Homo sapiens: one gene and its partners. The protein of the gene in region 3 purifies or fractionates together with the protein of the main gene of each other region. This does not show direct contact. Each region holds a gene or a part of one and is shown on either strand. Other genes may lie near its edges.

What was found.
Region 1: the proteins of SERTAD2 (region 3) and PPP2R2C purify together in Homo sapiens (co-immunoprecipitation; 2 studies listed by BioGRID and IntAct, with this or other methods). This does not show direct contact.
Region 2: the proteins of SERTAD2 (region 3) and HAPLN3 purify together in Homo sapiens (co-immunoprecipitation; 2 studies listed by BioGRID and IntAct, with this or other methods). This does not show direct contact.

Annotation. Positions count from the first base shown.
Region 1 is NC_000004.12:6,462,516-6,469,627, reverse strand, and holds part of PPP2R2C (protein phosphatase 2, regulatory subunit B, gamma), read left to right. Parts: intron 1-7,112. UniProt on the Homo sapiens protein: The B regulatory subunit might modulate substrate selectivity and catalytic activity, and might also direct the localization of the catalytic enzyme to a particular subcellular compartment.
Region 2 is NC_000015.10:88,892,433-88,899,573, reverse strand, and holds the start of HAPLN3 (hyaluronan and proteoglycan link protein 3 isoform 2 precursor), read left to right. Parts: upstream 1-4,029; 5' UTR 4,030-4,115; intron 4,116-6,461; coding exon of another isoform or gene 6,462-6,600; intron 6,601-7,141. Other genes in the region: MFGE8 (lactadherin isoform a preproprotein), read left to right, coding at 42-179. UniProt on the Homo sapiens protein: May function in hyaluronic acid binding.
Region 3 is NC_000002.12:64,631,063-64,636,967, reverse strand, and holds the end of SERTAD2 (SERTA domain-containing protein 2), read left to right. Parts: exon of another isoform or gene 1-44; intron 45-92; 5' UTR 93-96; coding exon 97-1,041; 3' UTR 1,042-5,347; downstream 5,348-5,905. UniProt on the Homo sapiens protein: Acts at E2F-responsive promoters as coregulator to integrate signals provided by PHD- and/or bromodomain-containing transcription factors.

The DNA of each region.
Region 1 (7,112 bases), on a different chromosome or scaffold from region 3:
GGAGAAATAATAACGACCTTTCATACAGGGTTGCTGGGATGATCAGTGATTTTGCTAATATCAAAAGTGCCCAGCACAGTGCTTGGGTTGTTGGAGGCATTGAACACATGGCATTGTTATTATTTATATGCCTTGTAACTGGAAGAGCCTGTGGGCAAACAGTGGATGCTAAAATTCAGTTTGCGGAAGAACCAGGTGCACAAACTCCTGTTCTACCTGTGGTTGAGTCTACACTCCCCCACCACACCCCAGCTGCTCTGATCTACCTCCTGTTCCTTGAGCAGGCCATTTTCTTTCTTGCTTCAGGGCGTTTGCAATGGCTGTTGCCTGGAATACCCACCTCCTGCCTTTCTCACCACTGACTCTTTCTCATCCTTTGGGCCCCATGTCCAATGTCATCTTTGCCCGTGGGAGCCCTGCTTGGGTTCCTGAGTCTCTTGTAAAATCTCAAACATCTTAGGAAGAGTTTAGGTTTTGTTAGTCATTCACATCTTGGTGTGAATTCGTCAGAGCAGGTTGGATTTTTTTTTTTTTTTTTTTTTTTTTTTTTGGTGGCAGGGCTGGGTGGCTTACTCTTGGCTGGGCTCAACTGCATTGAGGGTTATGGTGATGATTAGGTGTACCTGCAGGCCACCTGGGGGCACAGAGAACTTTGCATGAATGGGGTCAGGGTGTGGGGAGAGCAGTGCAGCTGATAGGGCACTGGGCCCTGGGCCCTGGACCCTGGAGGGTGCTAGGAAGTCTCCATCTAGTTAGACATTTCTCAAGAGCTGGATATGGTTCCAGGAAGGACTCTTCCTGGCTCTGTTCTTTCTCTTTTTGCGGCAGGCCTCAGTACTTAGCTTTAGAGTGAGTTGAATAAGCACTTCCAGACTAGACTGAACTTACAAAACCCATCCATCCTTCCTTTGCTTAGCACCATTTGCCAAGCACATCCTGCCCTGGGCAGCAGTGATGACCAAGACACAGGAGCTCAGCCAAGGGGAGGTGGTTCAGGCTGACCAGGTAGATCCTGGCAGTGACTGGGTCTTTCTGGGGAGCAACAGTCACTCTCATGTGCCTGACAGGTAAGGCACTTCCGGAGCACACTTTTCAGCTGAGGCCAGAGGCACAGCTTCCCCTTGTTTGAGCATCTCAGCCATCACACACTGTTGGACACTCATGCTTTTTGCATCTGCATAAAGGATGTACCCATGTTTTCCTAACTCCCATCCCTGGATGTCCTGTGTGATTTCAGAGTAGTCTGTTTATTCCCACAGAGTTGTCCTGATTTTATAGTTGAGGAAGTGAAGGATGCTTGGGAATTGCTAAGGTCATCATGGGGTCCTGAGGCTGTCTGAACGCAGCAGGCAGGCAGGTTTTCCTGCATGGAATTGTCTGCAGGTTTTGAACTGGTTGTGCCCTGGATACCATCTACTTTCTGCCCAGGAAACCACACTGAAGAGGGGATGCTGCTTGTGGGAGACTCAGCATTCAGTGAAATCTGCACCCTTATGGTGGACGTTGCAGCTGATCTCCACAACAGTTAGTCTCTCTTCTTCCAAGGAGAACACATATGGTTCCTAGTAAGAGATCTCAGGCCATAGCTGGATGTGATCAGTGCAAGGATGATCTCATTCCCCTTGCAGTGACTGGTTCCAGAATGGATGTGGGAGTCAGTTCTGGAGGTTGAGTGGAAAGTAGGGAGAACCACAGGTAGTTGGTCCCTCTCTTGTGATGGGAACAGGGAAACCTTGTGGTGGCTGGCAGCCATCTGACACCATGAGGGGAGCAAGTCTTAGGCCACCACCGTTGATGGCAGGGCAGAGAGTGAGTGAGATCCAGGACATAGAGGCCTGATGTCCAGGCCGCCTCTGAACTTCCAGTTACATGAGCTGTTACTTTTCCTTTTCGTTGTGCACTTTCAAGTCTCCGTTACTTGCAGCCCATAGCACCCCAACTCGTACAGCCCTGACTGCTTATCAAGAAAACCAGGAGGCTGATCTGTAACCCACAGCTAAGACTCGAGATACATAAAACCCAGAGGGATTTTTGTTTGCTTTCTGTTTTGAGAACCCTCTTTCATTTCACTCAAGTCAAGGTTGCCAATTTCTGGTTTTCCCTCCTCAGTCCTATTGAGGAGGTATTTTTGGTCAGATAAGAGAGCCTGAGATCTGGCATCGGGAGATCTGGGTTCCTGGTGGGGTCTGACCCTGGGTCTGTAATATTGGGCAGGTCACACGGTCTCTCTGAGCCTCAGTTTATTCTTAATAGATCAGTAAGTGATGATGTCTATTCTTTAGGGGCCAGAGTTAGACTAGCCCTTAGAACTGTCATCAGACTGGCTAGCCTAACTTCCACCCCAACCTATGGGGAAACTGAGGCTAAGAGGGGGGACATTAGTGGTGGCACAGAGGGAGATTAGGGAGAGTCAGCCTTTGACTTTTGAAAATCAAGATGTGGACTGTTCAGATTCTGTGTTCCTTTCGCTTCTGTTTGGAAACGCCACTTACATAAGCTTCCCTTGGGCTTCACAGCGAGTGTGGGCTCCATTTCAGTGCTGGGGTGCCCTCCATCAAATCACATCACTTTCTGAGCCTCAGTTTCCCTGCACTGCCTGGTGCCCTGGGTTGTCATGAGGCTGTAAGGAGCCAAGGGCATGTGGACTCTGAAGTTCTACACGTGTAAAAGGCGACTGCTGTCAATTTCCCCAAATTGTAGTGTAGGCCAACTCCCACGCCCCTGCTGTAAGCAATGTGCTCCTTTCTTTTTAATCAACCCGAACTTAAAGCTTGGCGCAGTCACAGAGCACGGTTTTTCTCATTTTCTTTCTGGAAGATGAAAATCAAATTCTAATAAAATTTTTCCACTCCATCTCCTGACTGTTGTCATTTGCTACACTTTTTAGTGTTTATCCTTAAAGCTTGCAGAGCTAAGGGATGTTTGGTAAGAAGTGTTTAGGCCTTGAGACTGGAAGAGCCGCTGTATGAAGCGCTAGGCTCCATGGAGAGTGTGATGGGGAGTAAGAGAAGGAGAGTGAACTCCTGTGAGTCCACCAAGCAGAGGGACATACTCTCAGCAACTGGGGTATTTCCTTCCAGTCTTTTTTTAATGCCCATGTCTGTTTTTAATGAAAACTGTAATCTGTCTGTATCAACAATTTTGAAGGCTACTTTTCTAGTTTGGCATGAGATTATAGGAATTTTCCAGGGCTTTGCTCCAGGGCTGGCTTCATGGATATGCAACCTGTGTGGTCATCTAGGTCCCCACACTCAGAAGGACCTGTGCTTGGGTTCATGTTCTGCTGTTACTATCTTGAAATTTTTAAGAATTTCACTTTGGATCCTGTGTTTTGTAAGCGAAATCTGATGGGACGGGGGAGCCTGGGAATGAGCAGAGGGGTACGTGTGGCAGGCGAGTCTGTGGTTACACATATTGGCTCCCACAGCACGCTACCCTGTGTTCACTTGAGCGTCTGAGCCCCATGCACAGTGGACAGCTCATGCACCTTCTCAGTGCGTCTGTAGTTTCACAGGCAGGGGCCATGCTTTCAAATAATGCTCCAAGGCATTGATGTTCTCATGCAGTGACTTCTAAGAAACATGAATGACGCAGGAACCCTATGGTGTCCTTTCTTAACGTGTGTTACGTGCCCATATTTGCCAATCGCTGACACTGAAAATGATTACACAGAAGGGAAGGGAAAAAGAGGGCACCTATAGTTCCTTTTCCTCCTAGTCCTTCCTTGTTTATTATTGAACCAAGGGTAGAGGGTGTTGGAAGAATGTACACATATCCAGAAATGAAATAAGAACAGTTAAGTTAGTTTCCTCTGCTCTGGTAAGAACAAAATCCATATGCGAAATATAACTTGTGCATTTTGGTGAGTCTACATTCCAGTTACGTGCTCTTATGTTTGCATTTAAAATTGGAGGTGCACACTAGAATGGTGAGTGATAAAATGCACGCTAAGAGTTTAAGCTTTTTTTTTTTTAAATTTGAATTGACATTAAATAGCAAATAACACCATGACAAAATATGGAAGGCATGAAAAGGTTTTGTATCTTAGCACCTTTAATGATGCTTTTCCTTTGCTTTTTGAATAAGAGGCTCTGCATTTTCATTTTTCCCTGTGCCCCACGAATTATAGGGTTGGCCCTGCTCTGCTGGAACTCTGGGTAGGGTGAACTCCTTGGCCCTGCCTTCTACCTCCTTGGCTTTCGTGATTGGTGGAAATGGTGAGAGCCTGCCATCCATTGGGCAGCTCTTCCCTATGGGGAGGGGTTACAATATTAAATGTCCGTGCTCCTCTCTCACCCATTGGGTCCATGGGCCTCTGACTTCCAGGTTGCTCTACAGGGGAGAGGCCAACAGTTATCTTATTTTACAAGCTAGAAGTTAGACCTACCTCTCCCCGCAGGACCAAGGGGTGGGGAGGTGAAGTAGGGGTCCATAGCTCTTTTTTTTCCTACAGGTTTACCATTAATAAAGCAGATTTTTTTATTCCTGTCTTGCGGCCAGTCTTTTCTGTGTAATCCCAAGTCCCAGCAAGGAAGAGGGGTGACTGGTTACCTTGGCCCCGCCCCCAAGTCACACAGTACACGTATTGACAACCATCATTTCATTGGCTGCATACTATTCCTGTGATACATGTGTCATCATTCAGTAGTTCAATTAATCATTTCCTTATGGCTGGATATTTAGTTCCCTCCCTTCCCTCCCTCCCTCCCTTCCTCCCTTCCTTCCTTCTCTCTCTCTCTGTCTCTCCCCCACACACTTTCTTATTTTCATAACTAACACTGCAGGAATGAACACCATTTGTGTGTGTGAAGACCCCCTACTCCCATCGTTCCCCCTTAACCTTGGGATGATGCTCTTCAGAAGGAATTCCACACGTGCTATTTCATATAAAGATCACTAGCATTTTTAATGTTGTTGACACACATTGGCAGATTATTCTCCAGAAAGTTTTTCTCTTTAACCACATGCTGATCAACATTAGGTAGTCTAATTTGTTTGACCTTTGCAAATATCAAAGATGAAAAATATTTATTGTAATTCACGTCTGCATACCAATGAGGTTGAACATTTTTTCCTTTTGTTCAGCGGGTATTGGCTGATCCCTGTTATGTGCCAGGGTGACATTAGATTCTAGACATACAAAGTTGAAGAGCAAGGCTGTGTCTGCCTTGAAATGTGGACTCTCCTCTCCCAGTGTCTTGGGTGCCACTGCGGGACCTAGCTACTTCTCAGGAGAGAGTCTGAAGCTGCTGGAGGAGTCTGTACATCCCTCAGCACCCTGGGGAGTCCTGTTAGTTACACAGGGCCTTGCAAAGACAGGCATCTCACCATTAAGCCCTTGAGCAGAATGATCCAAGTGGACTTTAGGATGAAATAATTACAAAACAAACACAATAGCCATTATTATGATTCACCATTTATTGGCTATGTACTATAATACTATATGCTGGACATGAGGCTGCGTGCATCTCATTGGAGATGCCCCAGACCTGATGTTGTGTATATTATTTCCCCATTTTACAGAGGAGAAAACTGAGGCTGAGGTGCTTGTTCAATGTCACATAGTTTGTAAGGGACAGAGCTGAGTTTTGAATGCAGCCTGCCAAACCCACGCTCCTGACTGCTACATTAATTGGCTGGGACCCACAGGGCAGGGTTAGGTGGCCTGTTCAGTTCTGATTATGCACCACACTTAGGAGATTTTGGGATTTGAACTAGACTACCTGGCTTGGTGCTCTTGCTATCTGTGTTGCGATGAAAGGCAATCGAGAGGGTTCAGCAGGAGGAGAGACCCCCTTCACGGCACAGGTAGATGGCAGTGGCAGAGGCCACAATTGGACACGTGGTCCAGGGACTGAAGGGCAGGTGGCATTTCCAGGTTGGGGGGTGATGATGTGCTGGGACATGGTATTCTAGCGCATTCTGGGCAGGAGGAACGGTGTGTGCAAAGTGGCATAACACTTGTCCCCTGACAGTGTCCAGCTCCTCTGCTTGAGACCAGGAGGCAGTTAGTTAGTTGCCAGCCGGCCCGGGAGCAGGACACACCTGGGGGCCCCTGTGCTGCCCAGGACAGGCACTGCCCTCCTTGCACAGTGGGGGCCATTGTCCTCCAGAACCCAGGGCTGAATGTCCCATTGAGGCAGAACAAAGGCTGCTCAGAGGTTCCCAGCTGGGGTGTGGGCTGCCGCAAGCAGGGATGGGATCTCCAACTGCAGGCCAAGGGCCTCCTCCAGGCTGGCCTGGCCTCCTGCAGCCCCACCCCCACCCCTCCTCAGGACCAGGACTGTTGCTGCTGGAGGCTGGACCTGGGCTTGGGCTCCCAGGCCTGTGCTCTGGGTCTGGCACAGCTGCCGTGCCCTTGGCAGCTTCTTCATCCCCTGGGCAATTTCCCCATCTATGAAGCAGAGAGAGAGCGAGCTCCCAACCAGCAAGGCTTTCAGGCAGAATTGAATGAAATAGTGCACACTCTGTAGGTTAATCTCAATAAAAGGGAGCTCTTTCATGATCATGATTAGCTTCTGAATGTTTTTTTACAATTTCAAAAAAGTTTTGATGCAAACTTTCAAATTTGTGCCACTTCTGGGCCAAAGTGTTTAAGAAGGGAGTGCACCTTCCCCCCTCCCTCTGTCCCAGAGAAGGGAGAGATGCCGCTCCCTGGAGCCCCTCATCACTCTGTGGAAGGGACTGCTGGCCAACTGTTACAAGAGGAGAAACTTCTTTGCATTTGTGAGAAAATAGTCTATTGAACTGCTTCCAATCTATCAAGATCTTGCTGTACTTCCTTCATTTACTCTCCCCTGCTTTTGGATGAAGAATTTTTAGGCAAATCCAAGACTCCTGTCATTTCCCCGTTCCATCTGCAGGCATCTCTGAGTGTTGAGGGCATTTCTTGTAGCCCAGTGCTGTTATCCCACCTCACAAAACATATCCTGATTCTTTGTTACCTAAATTCTGGTCCATTTTATGAACGTCCCCAGTTGTCTGAGAAATGTCTCTTATGGTTGGGTGGTTTGGCCCAGGATCCAAAGTCCTGCACCTGCGTTTGGCTGTTCTGTCTCTTGTCTTTTCTGACCTAGACTCAGCCTCCATCCCCTTTTCAGGCTACCAACTTG
Region 2 (7,141 bases), on a different chromosome or scaffold from region 3:
GGGCTGGCTCGGGGTCCTCCTGACACCCGCTCTGCCTCTAGATCTTCCCTGGCAACTGGGACAACCACTCCCACAAGAAGAACTTGTTTGAGACGCCCATCCTGGCTCGCTATGTGCGCATCCTGCCTGTAGCCTGGCACAACCGCATCGCCCTGCGCCTGGAGCTGCTGGGCTGTTAGTGGCCACCTGCCACCCCCAGGTCTTCCTGCTTTCCATGGGCCCGCTGCCTCTTGGCTTCTCAGCCCCTTTAAATCACCATAGGGCTGGGGACTGGGGAAGGGGAGGGTGTTCAGAGGCAGCACCACCACACAGTCACCCCTCCCTCCCTCTTTCCCACCCTCCACCTCTCACGGGCCCTGCCCCAGCCCCTAAGCCCCGTCCCCTAACCCCCAGTCCTCACTGTCCTGTTTTCTTAGGCACTGAGGGATCTGAGTAGGTCTGGGATGGACAGGAAAGGGCAAAGTAGGGCGTGTGGTTTCCCTGCCCCTGTCCGGACCGCCGATCCCAGGTGCGTGTGTCTCTGTCTCTCCTAGCCCCTCTCTCACACATCACATTCCCATGGTGGCCTCAAGAAAGGCCCGGAAGCGCCAGGCTGGAGATAACAGCCTCTTGCCCGTCGGCCCTGCGTCGGCCCTGGGGTACCATGTGGCCACAACTGCTGTGGCCCCCTGTCCCCAAGACACTTCCCCTTGTCTCCCTGGTTGCCTCTCTTGCCCCTTGTCCTGAAGCCCAGCGACACAGAAGGGGGTGGGGCGGGTCTATGGGGAGAAAGGGAGCGAGGTCAGAGGAGGGCATGGGTTGGCAGGGTGGGCGTTTGGGGCCCTCTATGCTGGCTTTTCACCCCAGAGGACACAGGCAGCTTCCAAAATATATTTATCTTCTTCACGGGAACTCTTGGTGTGGTTCGTTATTGTTTCATGGGAATGGGATTTAAATTGCGCTGGTTTCCCCATCCCCCACCTGTGGTCCTCCCTGAGCCCCAGCTTGCTTGCTTGCTTTTTTTTTTTTTTTTTTGAGATGGAGTCTTGCTCTGTCGCCAGGCTGGAGTGCAGTGGTGTGATCTCGGCTCATTGCAATCTCTGCCTCCTGGGTTCAAGCATTTCTCCTACCTCAGCCTCCCAAGTAGCTGGGACTATAGGTGCACACCACCATGCCCAGCTAAGTTTTATATTTTTAGTAGAGACAGGGTTTCACCGTGTTGGCCAGGATTGTCTCAATCTCTTGACCTTGTGATCCACCTGCCTCGGCCTCCCAAAGTGCTGGGATTACAGGCGTGAGCCACCGTGCCCAGCCCCATCTTTCTTTATGTCACCTGCCTGACTACACATAGCTTCATAGCAGGAGGCTGGAGACTTTGGTCCAGGGCGGCCTGAAGGAAGTCAGGACTTCCAGGTCCTCAAAACCTGACTTCCCCTCTTCCCTCTGCTTTCTACCTCCATGCCGTCTGGCCCTGAGCCCTACAACTGCTGCCTGGTCAGGGGCCCAGCGAGTGCTGGCAGACACTGTCTCCTGAATGCTTTTGCTCCCTTCCTGCCAGGAAGACTGGCTGGGGCAGCTGGTTTTCCCCTTCAGCAGTTTCCATTCTCTCTGCAACTGGAGTGGTGGGCTGGAGAAACTATAAGAAACTCAGTGAACCTGGATGCCTTCCGAACTGCGGGAGTTCCTGGGGTGGGTGCAGCGTGGGACTGGAGGAGGGGGCCGGGGCTCTGCCAAGTGGGCATGAGGCCTCCTGCCTGAACACACTGGTTCCTGGTAGGCCACTGGCGTGTGTGCTCCAGGGATACCCTCTCTGCCCTCCCCTGTGTGGGGGTCATCAAGAAGTGGGGGTGGGCCTTGCGGGCCAGTGTCTTGGTGATCTGGAAGGGTGACTTGCAGGCAGAGGCTTGGCTAGCTTGGGAAGGGGTGTAGGAAAAACCACCCTCTTTGTCAAGGTGAATTTTTCCAAACTTTGGGAGCCGGCTGTGTTCTGCAGGCAGGGGGTGCATCTGAGCAGCAGGAGGTGGGGCCGCCTCTGAGCAGCAGGAGGTGGGGCCGCCTCTGAGCAGCAGGAGGTGGGGCCACAGGGCTGCCAAAGGGAGGGCGTGGCTTTGCTGGAACCACATCAGGGAAATGTGTCTGGAAGTGGTTCCTTTCTGAGACCTGCGGTTGCTGGGCTCCTGGGCCTAGCAGGGTCTGAATAAAAGGCCCAGGCCGTGGTCTTCGTAGGAACTGAGGATGGGGGACTCCCTTCCCCTGGGTGTCCCTTGGCCTACTGCCTCCCGTTTCAGAGCTCTCTTCTGCGGAGCGGTGTGGATTGGGTTTAGAGCCAAGCCTTTCTGCGTGCTTCCAAGCCTCAGGTCTCCCTCCCGGGGGAGTTTCCTGCCCTGAACCCCTGTTCCAGCATACCCTGGGGATAAGCAGACAGTGGGAGAAGCATCTCTGCTCTGGGATGGGTTGGCCACAGCCTTCTAAAAGTCCCCCTCCTGGGACCCTGGAGTGGAGTCCCCTCACTCCTGACCCCCTCCTTCCTTCCTTGGCTTCTCTCCCTCAGCAGTGTCTTCCATTTGCCCAGCTTTTACCATCACCCCTACACATTGACTTTTTTCTGCCCCACTGCAAGGCAGAGGGTGAGCGTTCAGATTCCACCTGCTGGCTACCCCTACCCCTGGCTGGCATGTTCAACTCGACTTAACTGTAGCAAAATGTGCTCTCCCTACTGTCCATCCTCTCCCCTGTCGGGAACCTGCAGAGGGACCTACCTTGGCTCCCCTTTGCCCATCAAGCCTGGCGTTCCTTTTAGGTGTAGTTTACCTGTTGATCACAGTTCTTTGTGCTCCAATGTGCCCCTGGCTGTGTGTAACACACACACATGCACACACACACACACACTCATGGGCCAACTTGAGCTGTGTTTAGGAAGAGGCTCTGAGCTCTGTGACCCTGTGACCCTTCGACCCTTCCCCCAGCCAAAGCTGAAGGACCTCCTTAGTCTTTTCTGCTGAGGAAACATCGGGCTGTCCAGGCCAGGGCCCCCATTGGTCTGGACAGGAAAGAAAACACCCTGTCCAAACAGAGGCATCCTGAGCGGCTGCCTGGATGGCTGTGCTGATTAGCAGGATTCCGAAGGGAGGCCCACCCCTGTTGGAGGACCACTCAGAAGCCTGATTGCCCCTGCAGGCTGCAGAGGTATCCCACCCTGTGTCTCCCCTCCCAGCCAGGGCCACTCATTCAAGCCCCATGTGCTGGGGATAGCACCTGCTATGTGCCTGACAGTGAGTTGGGAATCTGGCCAGTGTTTCATGATGGCCAAACTCAGGGGCATGAGGACATCAGCAACCCCTTGCTTTTTTTTTTTTTTTTTTTTTGAGACGGAGTTTTGCTCTTGTTGCCCAGGCTGGAGCACAATGGCATGATCTCAGCTCACTGCAACCTCCGCCTCCTGGGTTCAAGCAATTCTCCTGCCTCAGCCTCCCAAGTAGCTGGGATTACAGGCATGCTCCACCACGCCCAGCTAATTTTGTATTTTTAGTAGGGACAGGGTTTCACCATGTTGCCCAGGCTGGTCTTGAACTCCTGACCTCAGGTGATCCACCGGCCTCCACCTCCCAAAGTGCTGGGGTTACAAGCATGAGCCACTCACTGCACCTGGCCTCACCCCCTTGCTTTCTATTTGGAAAAGAAAGTAATACAGAAGTCTCACCCCTTCCACAATCAAAGGTGGGGAGCAGCCTTAGCCCCTAGCAGAATGCTGGACAGGGGCTTCCCCTGCTTACTCCCACTGTTTTTGGTATACCAGGCTTTCTAAGGGGATCCCCCCTCCCCAAACTCTCCTATTCCACCCCTACTCTCCTTTCCCAAGACGTGAGGGCCTCAACTCTTGCACACCCTCTTTGCGGTGGTTCCCAGCGAGTCTGGAGACCGCTCAAGCCTGCAGCAGCTCCTCCCTTCGAGCCCAGCCCTTGGGAGGGAAAGGTGCGCGTGTTCCTTTAAGGGGCTGGTCTGGCGGGAGCGCGGGGGTTTTTCTGCTGCCGCTTCCTTTCTGCCCTTTTAATTTCCCCGAAATCAGACTGCTGCCTTGGACCGGGACAGCTCGCGGCCCCCGAGAGCTCTAGCCGTCGAGGAGCTGCCTGGGGACGGTACGTGGCTTAGGGGTCGCTGGGCTTCTGGGGCTGTGTGCGGGCCGGGTTCCTCCCTTACCGCTTTGGGTGCCCTGCGGGTCCCCACACCTCCCGGGCAGGGTCCGGGGAAGGGGCAGGAGGCGTGGGCCGGGCACTGCGGAGGCCCGGGCTGAGATGGGCTGTGATCGCGGGCGAGGGGCGCCCGGGGCACAAGTGGGGAGGGAGCGGCGCGGGGATGCGGGCGCCGGACCCTCGTGCCCACCGTGAGGGAGCAGAGCCCGAGCGGACCCCGTGGCCTCCGAGACCACCGTCCGCCTCCAGCCCCCTTCCTGCCAGGGTCCGCTTGGCTCTCTCCCCTGTCGTCTGTCCAGGGTCGGCTGCCTCCAGTGCCGTCCGCGGCGCCCCAGGCCCTGCCCCTGGGTATCTGTTGGATGCTCCGGGGGCCCCGGGAGTCCTGGGAGGGGCTGAGGGCAACCTGCGAGGCGGCTGGCGGACCTGCGCCTCTGGACCGCAGCTGGCCGGCTCTGGGCGCCTGGGGCAAAGGCAACTGATGCCTATGGGTTCCAGACCTCGCTCACCGGGGTTCTTGCCCCAGGGACAGCGAGGCCAGAAGGGTAGGGAGGGTGGAGGGCAGAGCCCTGGGTGGGAGATGGCGACCCTCAGGGAGAAACGTAGGCTTGTGCGCAGCCAGTATGGAAACAGCACGGCACTTGGACCCAGTCCTGCCACCAGCTCGTTGGCAGCCACAGGCCACAGGCAGCCTGTAAACCTGTTGGGACCTTGGTGTCCAGCGCTGACCCGCGGGAGTGCCTGTGCTCCCTGGAGTAGGGGGCAGCGATTGAGAGGGGCCCTGGCTTCTCTCCCTCGACGCCGCCCGGGCCAGCGGATTGGGAAACACCTCCGGTTTTCATTCTCCTGGGGGCTGCAGGTTTCAAAGGCGGAGATCAAGCCTTGTGCAAACAGGGACAGGGATGTCAAATTTCTCGCTGGGAGCAGCGCTCGTGCAGACCTCGCGGGCGATGCTGCCTCCTGCTGGTACCTGGGGGACTTGTACTCACGGAAGGCCCAGTGCGGACATGCACCTGGCAGGGAGGTGGCACCTACCCTCCCTCCAAGCCCAGGCTTATTGTTCTTGGGTGGAGGGGTCCCTAGGCTGGGGCGCCTGGGAAAAGCAAAGGGCTGGTCATCAGGAAACCTGAACTTTCTCTAAGTTCGAGATATTTGACAAAGATAACGCCTTGGGTAGTTCACTGACCTCCACTCTCTTGGCCTCAGTTTCCTCAACTGTGAAGAGGAGGCAGTGGTGACCACTTTGTCTCGTAGGCAGTGAGAGAGGAGAAAGAGCCACTGAGATGGTGTAAGACTTCACTGTGTGAACTGCTCACCAGAGTAGTAACAGGTCATATTTTCCCAGTGCTTGCTCCTTATCAAGCATCAAGCAGTATTTTCAGTGCTCTGCAGCTATTCTCTCCCTTAATCTTCACGAGAGTGTTTTCTGTTTGGTATTGTCGTGACCGCCCCCCCCACCCCAACTTTTTTTTTTTTTTTGAGATGGAGTCTCACTCTTCTTGCCCAGACTGGAGTGCAATGGCTCAATCTCGGCTCACTGCAACCTCCGCCTCCTGGGTTCAAGCGATTCTTCTGCTTCAGCCTCCCGAGTAGCTGGGACTACAAGCGCTCATCACCACACTCGGCTAATTTTTGTATTTTTAGTAGAGATGGGGTTTCACCGTGTTGGCCAGGCTAGTCTTGAACTCTTGACCTCAGGTGATCTGCCCACCTCAGCCTCCCAAAGTGCAGGGATAACAGGCATGAGGCACTGTGCCTGGCTTGTGACCCCCATTTTAAAGATGAAGAAACTGAGGCTCAGAGAGGTGCAGCGACTTGTCCAATGACAGAGGGTTAGTAAGTGGGTGGAGCCAGAACTGAATGCAGGCAGCCAATCTGCTTCTAGAGCCTGAAATCTTTGCCATGTTCATTTGTTGAGCACCTGCTGCATGCCAGGGACCAGACATCATACATCTTCTATAATTGTCACCACAGCCCATTTTTTTTTTTTGAGCTGGAGTCTTGCTCTGTCGGCCAGTCTGGAGTGCAGTGGTGTGGTCTTGGCTCACTGCAACTTCCGCCTCCTGGGTTCAAACAATTCTCCTGCCTTAGCCACCCCAGTAGCTGGGATTACAGGCATCTGCCACCACACCCAGCTAAATTTTGTATTTTCATTAGAGATGGGGGTTTCACTGTGTTGGCCAGGCCAGTCTCGAACTCCTGACCTCAGGTGATCCACCCCCTCAGCTTCCCCAAATGCTGTAGGATTACAGGTGTGAGCCACTGCACCCGGCCTTAAGTTCCTTTTTTTTACAGATGAGGAAATGGAGGCACAGAGAGGTGAACTTGCCCGAAGTCACTCAGCAGGATGCAGTGTGTCCAGCTCCAATACCGAGCCCAGGTCTGAGTGCCCAGACAGGACTCCAGAAGATTTGGGGAACTATCCACTGCCAAGGTGACTGGGCTGGACTTGGTCTTGGGCCTTCCAGCTGGTGGCACCTCTGTGGTGGTCCTGAGGAGTTGGTGGCTGGATAGCCATGGTAGGGGAGCAGAGGCTACCCATCCCTCCCCTCAGTGGTAGTGGTCAGGGATGGTCAGAGATGGACCTGAGGCAAGGCAGCAACCAAGTGGCAATTGCCACTCCTGACTCCCACACAGGACTCTGTCCTGTGCACTGACCTTAGCATTCAAGGCTGTGCTTGTCCTCAGCCCCCGAGTTCCCCTTTAGTCTTCTCTGGAGAGAGGAAATTTTCTGTTCAGAGAGGTCAAATGACTTTCCCAGGGTCACCCAGCTAGCAGGTGGCAGAGCCAAGACCCAACCTCAATGAGTTTAACTTGAAACCTTGGGCCTGTGTGCTGCTCCTCTCTCAGAGAGGCCTGGAAAATGGCCAGCTTCCTCCTGGCCTTTTGTTCTTGGGCACAGGGCTGATCTTTTCTTATAATTCCTTTTGTTTTTCTTTTCTTTTTTTTTTGAGATGCAGTTTCACTCTGTCGCC
Region 3 (5,905 bases):
TCCAAGTCCTGCCCTCTAAATCAGTCTCTTTTTTTATGGGAGAAATCAGCTTTCATGTGATTAATGCCATTTCCTCTCTCTCCCCTCTGCAGATATATGTTGGGTAAAGGAGGAAAACGGAAGTTTGATGAGCATGAAGATGGGCTGGAAGGCAAAATCGTGTCTCCCTGTGACGGTCCATCCAAGGTGTCTTACACCTTACAGCGCCAGACTATCTTCAACATTTCCCTTATGAAACTCTATAACCACAGGCCCCTGACAGAGCCCAGCTTGCAAAAGACCGTTTTAATTAACAACATGTTGAGGCGGATCCAGGAGGAACTCAAACAGGAAGGCAGCCTGAGGCCCATGTTCACCCCCTCCTCCCAGCCCACCACCGAGCCCAGCGACAGCTACCGAGAGGCCCCGCCGGCCTTCAGCCACCTGGCGTCCCCGTCCTCCCACCCCTGCGACCTCGGAAGCACTACGCCCCTGGAGGCCTGCCTCACCCCGGCCTCACTGCTCGAGGACGACGATGACACGTTTTGCACCTCCCAGGCCATGCAGCCCACGGCTCCCACCAAACTGTCACCTCCAGCCCTCTTGCCAGAAAAGGACAGTTTCTCCTCTGCCTTGGACGAGATCGAGGAGCTCTGTCCCACATCTACCTCCACAGAGGCGGCCACGGCTGCGACTGACAGTGTGAAAGGGACCTCCAGCGAGGCTGGCACCCAGAAACTCGACGGTCCTCAAGAGAGCCGCGCAGATGACTCAAAACTGATGGACTCTCTGCCTGGGAATTTTGAAATAACGACGTCCACGGGTTTCCTGACAGACTTGACCCTGGATGACATCCTGTTTGCTGACATTGATACGTCCATGTATGATTTTGACCCCTGCACTTCCTCATCAGGGACAGCCTCAAAAATGGCCCCTGTGTCTGCCGACGACCTCCTCAAAACTCTGGCTCCTTACAGCAGTCAGCCTGTCACCCCAAGTCAGCCTTTCAAAATGGACCTCACAGAGCTGGACCACATCATGGAGGTGCTTGTTGGGTCCTAAGACCCAGGGACCCAGCGACTATGCCCACCCAGACCCCAGAGCGTTCCCATAACCCTGACAGTTCTCCACACTGTGCATGCACCCTTGCTTGCCTTTTTCAGAGAAAAAGAAAATTTTACAACAGGATCACACTAGTTTTTGCTTTGAGCAGAGTTGGAGTGCCTTCATCCAAGTATGACCACTTTTAATACACTTTTTTGAGTGGTTCCTCAGAGACCTACTACCCTGGTATAGGAAAGAATCCATTTGAAGACAATGTTGCAATGTTGAATGACAAAAATAAACAGTTCAAGTGAAGCACAAGGATTAAGTTGGAAAAGCTGTAAATTGCATGTGCATATTTGTCTATTTTTTCTATAAGTTTTATTGCAAGAGGTAAAGAAGAAAACTATATATATATATCTTATTTAGATAATCTCAGTACCTTTTCTGGCATTTTTGCCCTGTATAGGTTGACTTGGCAATTCGGCCTTTTTAGAGGCATTAACTACTCCTCGTAAGTGTTGCATTTACATGGCTGTTTAGAAAACTGCTGCCCAAATTTATTTTATATTTTTGTACAGATTCTGCAGTTTATGATATTGTTTTTCTAAAAACAAATGCTGTTTATACATATGAGATAGCTATTTTGATAGGATTTGCTCACATAGTTCCTGCAAACTTCAGATGTACAAGTTGCACTTGTACTTTTATAGAGTTGTAATGTTTTATATGTGTATGGTGCAAGAGAAAATTGGATCAAATCAATCTGCAGTTGATGTCCCCAAATGCAAACACAGGCACACACATGCACACACCCATAAACACACACACAGTGCTTTAAGAAAGGGCCAGGTGATATCACACCCAAATTTCACAAGCACTGACCCCCTGGCACCAACACCCGCCAGTACTGTGACTTCCAAAGCCAGAGCCACATGTGCTCATCAAACTTGCATTAAGCAGTTGGCGGGAGATGGCTGTGGAGCTGGGGGTTTAAGTGATGGTTCTCTTTTGCTCCCTCTTTTGAGGGTAAAGCTACTGTCTTTCTTAAGAGTGTATTTATGCCAAGTTTGCGCTTTTAATTGTTTTTATTTTGTTTTTTAATGAAAACCCAGATCTTTCCTTTTTGGCATAATTTTTATGATGACCTGAAATTTTACATCCGAACAAAATTTTACATCCGAAAAGCAACCAACTTCTTCATGGAACTCAGCCCTGTTGCAATGCTTAGGGCCCTTAAAGAAGAAAATCTCCCCAGAAGGCATCCATCATGTTGCTTAATTGTCTTCTGCAGCTTCCTTTCCCTAGAGCTTTCCCTGTGTTGCTAAGAGCTGAAAATGGCATCTTCGTGATCACCACAGTGAGCTTGGCTCGCCTCGGCCGGCCCGGGATGCACTCTTACAACATGTGTGACTCTTGAACCTGGAGTTCATCACATTACGTCACAGCTTCCCATCTGGTTGCTTTCCTGAGTCAGCTACTTCACACTTGTCAAGGCTGTTTTACCCCAAAACTCAGACAGGACTTTCTATGCATGTTTTCCCTCCTCCCCCCAATTCCCCCCCCCATCACCTTATCTCCCAGGACACACTTGAGAAGTAGCTTTTTATTCCTAGTGGTGTACATTTAATTTTAAAAAGGTTGCAATGTATCATGCTTGTTGCCGAAACTGTTTATGGCCTTCTTGTTTCAGTTTTTTCTTTTCTTCCAATGGTACTTTAGCTGTTGAGTGCAGGTTACAACCTATATTGTTATGCAGATGGCTTCTTTAGGAATAACTTTTATATTTATTTAAAAATTTTTAAATTATGGGATGTTTTGTTGTTGTTGTTGTCTTTGTTGTTGGTCATTTGTCAATATTCAGTCACCAATTCTGCTCACTTCTTGCCATGGATAAAATTGGGTCTTTCTGGCTAATTAAAAAAGACAACTTTATAAAATGGCACTTTAAGCAAGCCATAGTTAGTTTTATTTTTGTAATGCACATGGCAAAGCAAAGACGTTTGTGATGAAGGAACTGCTCATCTAAGCAAAAGATTTGAGTATGATATGATAAAGGCTTTCTACATTCTAATTTACTTTTTCCCCCCACTTGAATGTGTTTTAAAGGCTAATTATCAGCTCAGTAGAGCAGTGAGAAACTGATCAAATTGCACTTGTTCTCCTACAAGCAACCTCCACGCAGACACCTCGTACTGCTACAGGTGTGTCATTTCCTTTAATAGGACCAGGGACCATGTAACTGAGGTGAGGGTTGTAGTAGATGCTTCCAGTGTCAGTATGCCTGTTAATTTTAAGAGCTTCCCTTTCTTGCAGAGAACAAGTCTGCCCAGATTCCATGCTTTCTATAACTGGAGGACCTGGCAAACCTGCCGCATGCTGCACACATCTACCTACGTACACATATACAATAGTATTGATGATTCTGAACAATAACAGGGTAAAACAGTTGGTTTGCCATTGTTAAAAACTGATTTACAGTAACTTACAACAACTGTACTTTTGTTGGATTAGCAAATCATGTGTTTAAACAAATCCCATATGTTGGGCAACAGTTCAAATAAGCACGGAGAAGTGTTGCCCAAACTTGGTTCTCTGACTCTTATGTATTTGTAAGGCTGGGCTTCAAAATCAAAACAAAAACCCCAAAAACAGCAGGCAAATGCTTTTTAACTCTGACACCGTTGCCATAAATCCCTGATACTCAAAGTCTAACAAGAAAGACATGGAAAATTAGCAGCCCATTTTCAGAAAGATCAAAATGATCTAGGGTTCTAATTGCTTTTGCATCCTATTCTTACAAAGTGATGTCCCAACAGGGAACAGTAGGAGCTGGAGTGGGATCTCCAAGTCCCAGTTTGAGTGTGGGATGTGCTTCCAGCAGTGCCTTCCCTTTATGAAAGACATCACATGGCATCCAGGGCCAGGCAGGCAGCTTGAGGTGCCTTTACGAGAAAACCGAGCTGGGGCTGGGAGAGGACAGTTATTGACACTGATGTGCAATGAAGTGACAAGATGAGAGCAGAATCGTAAGAGCTTTGAATTTGAAGTGAGTTTTTTTCCCCCCATAAGTTATTTATTCCTTTTTTCTGTGTAAATATATTTATTTTACTGTGGAGCGCTAACATCTGGATCGTAACATGTGCAGAATGTATGGTAGGAATGTATTCTCTTGTAGGAATGTAAATCTGTATTAAAAGGGGGTCCAAGCCAGGCCCCCAGGTCTTCTCATTGTATGCACAGTCCGCATTCATTTTTACTCTTCTCTAATATGGGTCTATTTGAAATATGCAAAAGGTATGAGGAATGTTTTAATACCTCCAAATTTTTAAGAAAAGCATCAAAGGGTTGATATTTTTTAAAGTTTTTTTAGTAGCACTTTCTCTGGATGACAGAAGGAGCAACCACATGGGCACCCTTGTTCATACCAAAGGGTGAGCAGTGGCCAGAGCCTCCTCTGCACCTCTCGAGTGTCTTTACCAATTGAGCTTTTTATCGCCATAGCCCCTTGGAGTGCCCCAGCTGCCCTGAGGTCAATCAAGGAAAATTTCTTAATGAAATAAGCTCCAAAGAGCCAAAGTATCAACTTACAGATCGTTTTTAAAGCTTAAATTTATGAACCACCTTTGTGGTAAACAATGAATTATGAATACCGCAGGGCAGCCTTCTTAAATGACAAATGTAAAAAAAAAAAAAAAAAAGACTCTACTTCGTGCAGCAATTGCTACTCTATACGAATTGTCTTAATTTGAAAACCTTGCTGTTACAAATTGGACCTTTATACATTTTCTGAAAACAATGAAAAGAGTATATTTAACCTTTTCTGGCTGTAAATGGTTACCTTCCTGTAACTGCCCCGCACCTGGAGGCATGGAGTTGTGTGCATCCTGCTTATGTACAATTGTTTTCAGTGTTTCTAAGAATGAGTCTGAATGGTTCTTGAAAATTAGCCAGGATCAAATGCTATTGCAGACAAAGCCAATAAAAAGTTGGACTTCTTTTGGGGATAACAAGTTTTGGAAGAGAAATGCAGGCCATATGTGCGCATGACCGAGATTTTGAAAAAAGATGTACATAGTGACATGTTTGGTGCATGGTTTTTGAGGAGGGCTTTTGTCAAAAAGGAGGTATAACCTTTCCCCCACAGACCTGAGAGCTGTGCCTTTTCTATGCAATATTACAGACGTTACATCGGAACCCAGATGGCTGTATTCACATGTAGGTTTGGGCTGTAATCTAAACAATTGGACAGATTAAATGTACATGGAAATGAGCAGTCTTACTTTTGTAGTTTTATATTATACAATAAACAGTTAAAAGATGAGAGAGGCATGCTTGCAGTTTTCTTTTGATGGGAGCTCAATCAGCTTATTTGTGACAGTTTGCTCACATTAAGCAAAGTCCAGCAAGAGAGAGCAGCAGGGGGGCCCCGAAGGAGTGCGTGCTGTTGGTCTTCCTGAACCGTCCTGGTCTCAGGAACCACCCTTCTCTCCTGGTTCTCCTCCTGCTTCTTGGACCCTTCTGGACCTCCTTTTTCTCACATCTGTGCCCCAGCTCTCTTTAAAACATTGTCTTTTCCAGGGTTTGGCCCATGACTGCACTTCACTGAGCCTCCATTCCTGCTGCCTCTTGCTTTCCCAAGGTGATCTAATCCACTCAGGACTCTCAAAACTGGTCTCCAGCCCCTGCCTCTCTCCTGAGCTCCAGACTTCAGTATCTACCAAGATTTGCTCCCTCACTCTCAGCGCGTCTAAAGAGCTCTCGTTTCCCCTGGGGGCTGATTCTTCTGTGGGCTCGTTGTCTTCAGCACTCTGCTCCACGCTTGGCTCAGTTGCCCACCCTTGCACCCTGTTCCGCAGTCCCAGCCATGTCATTCCCTCTG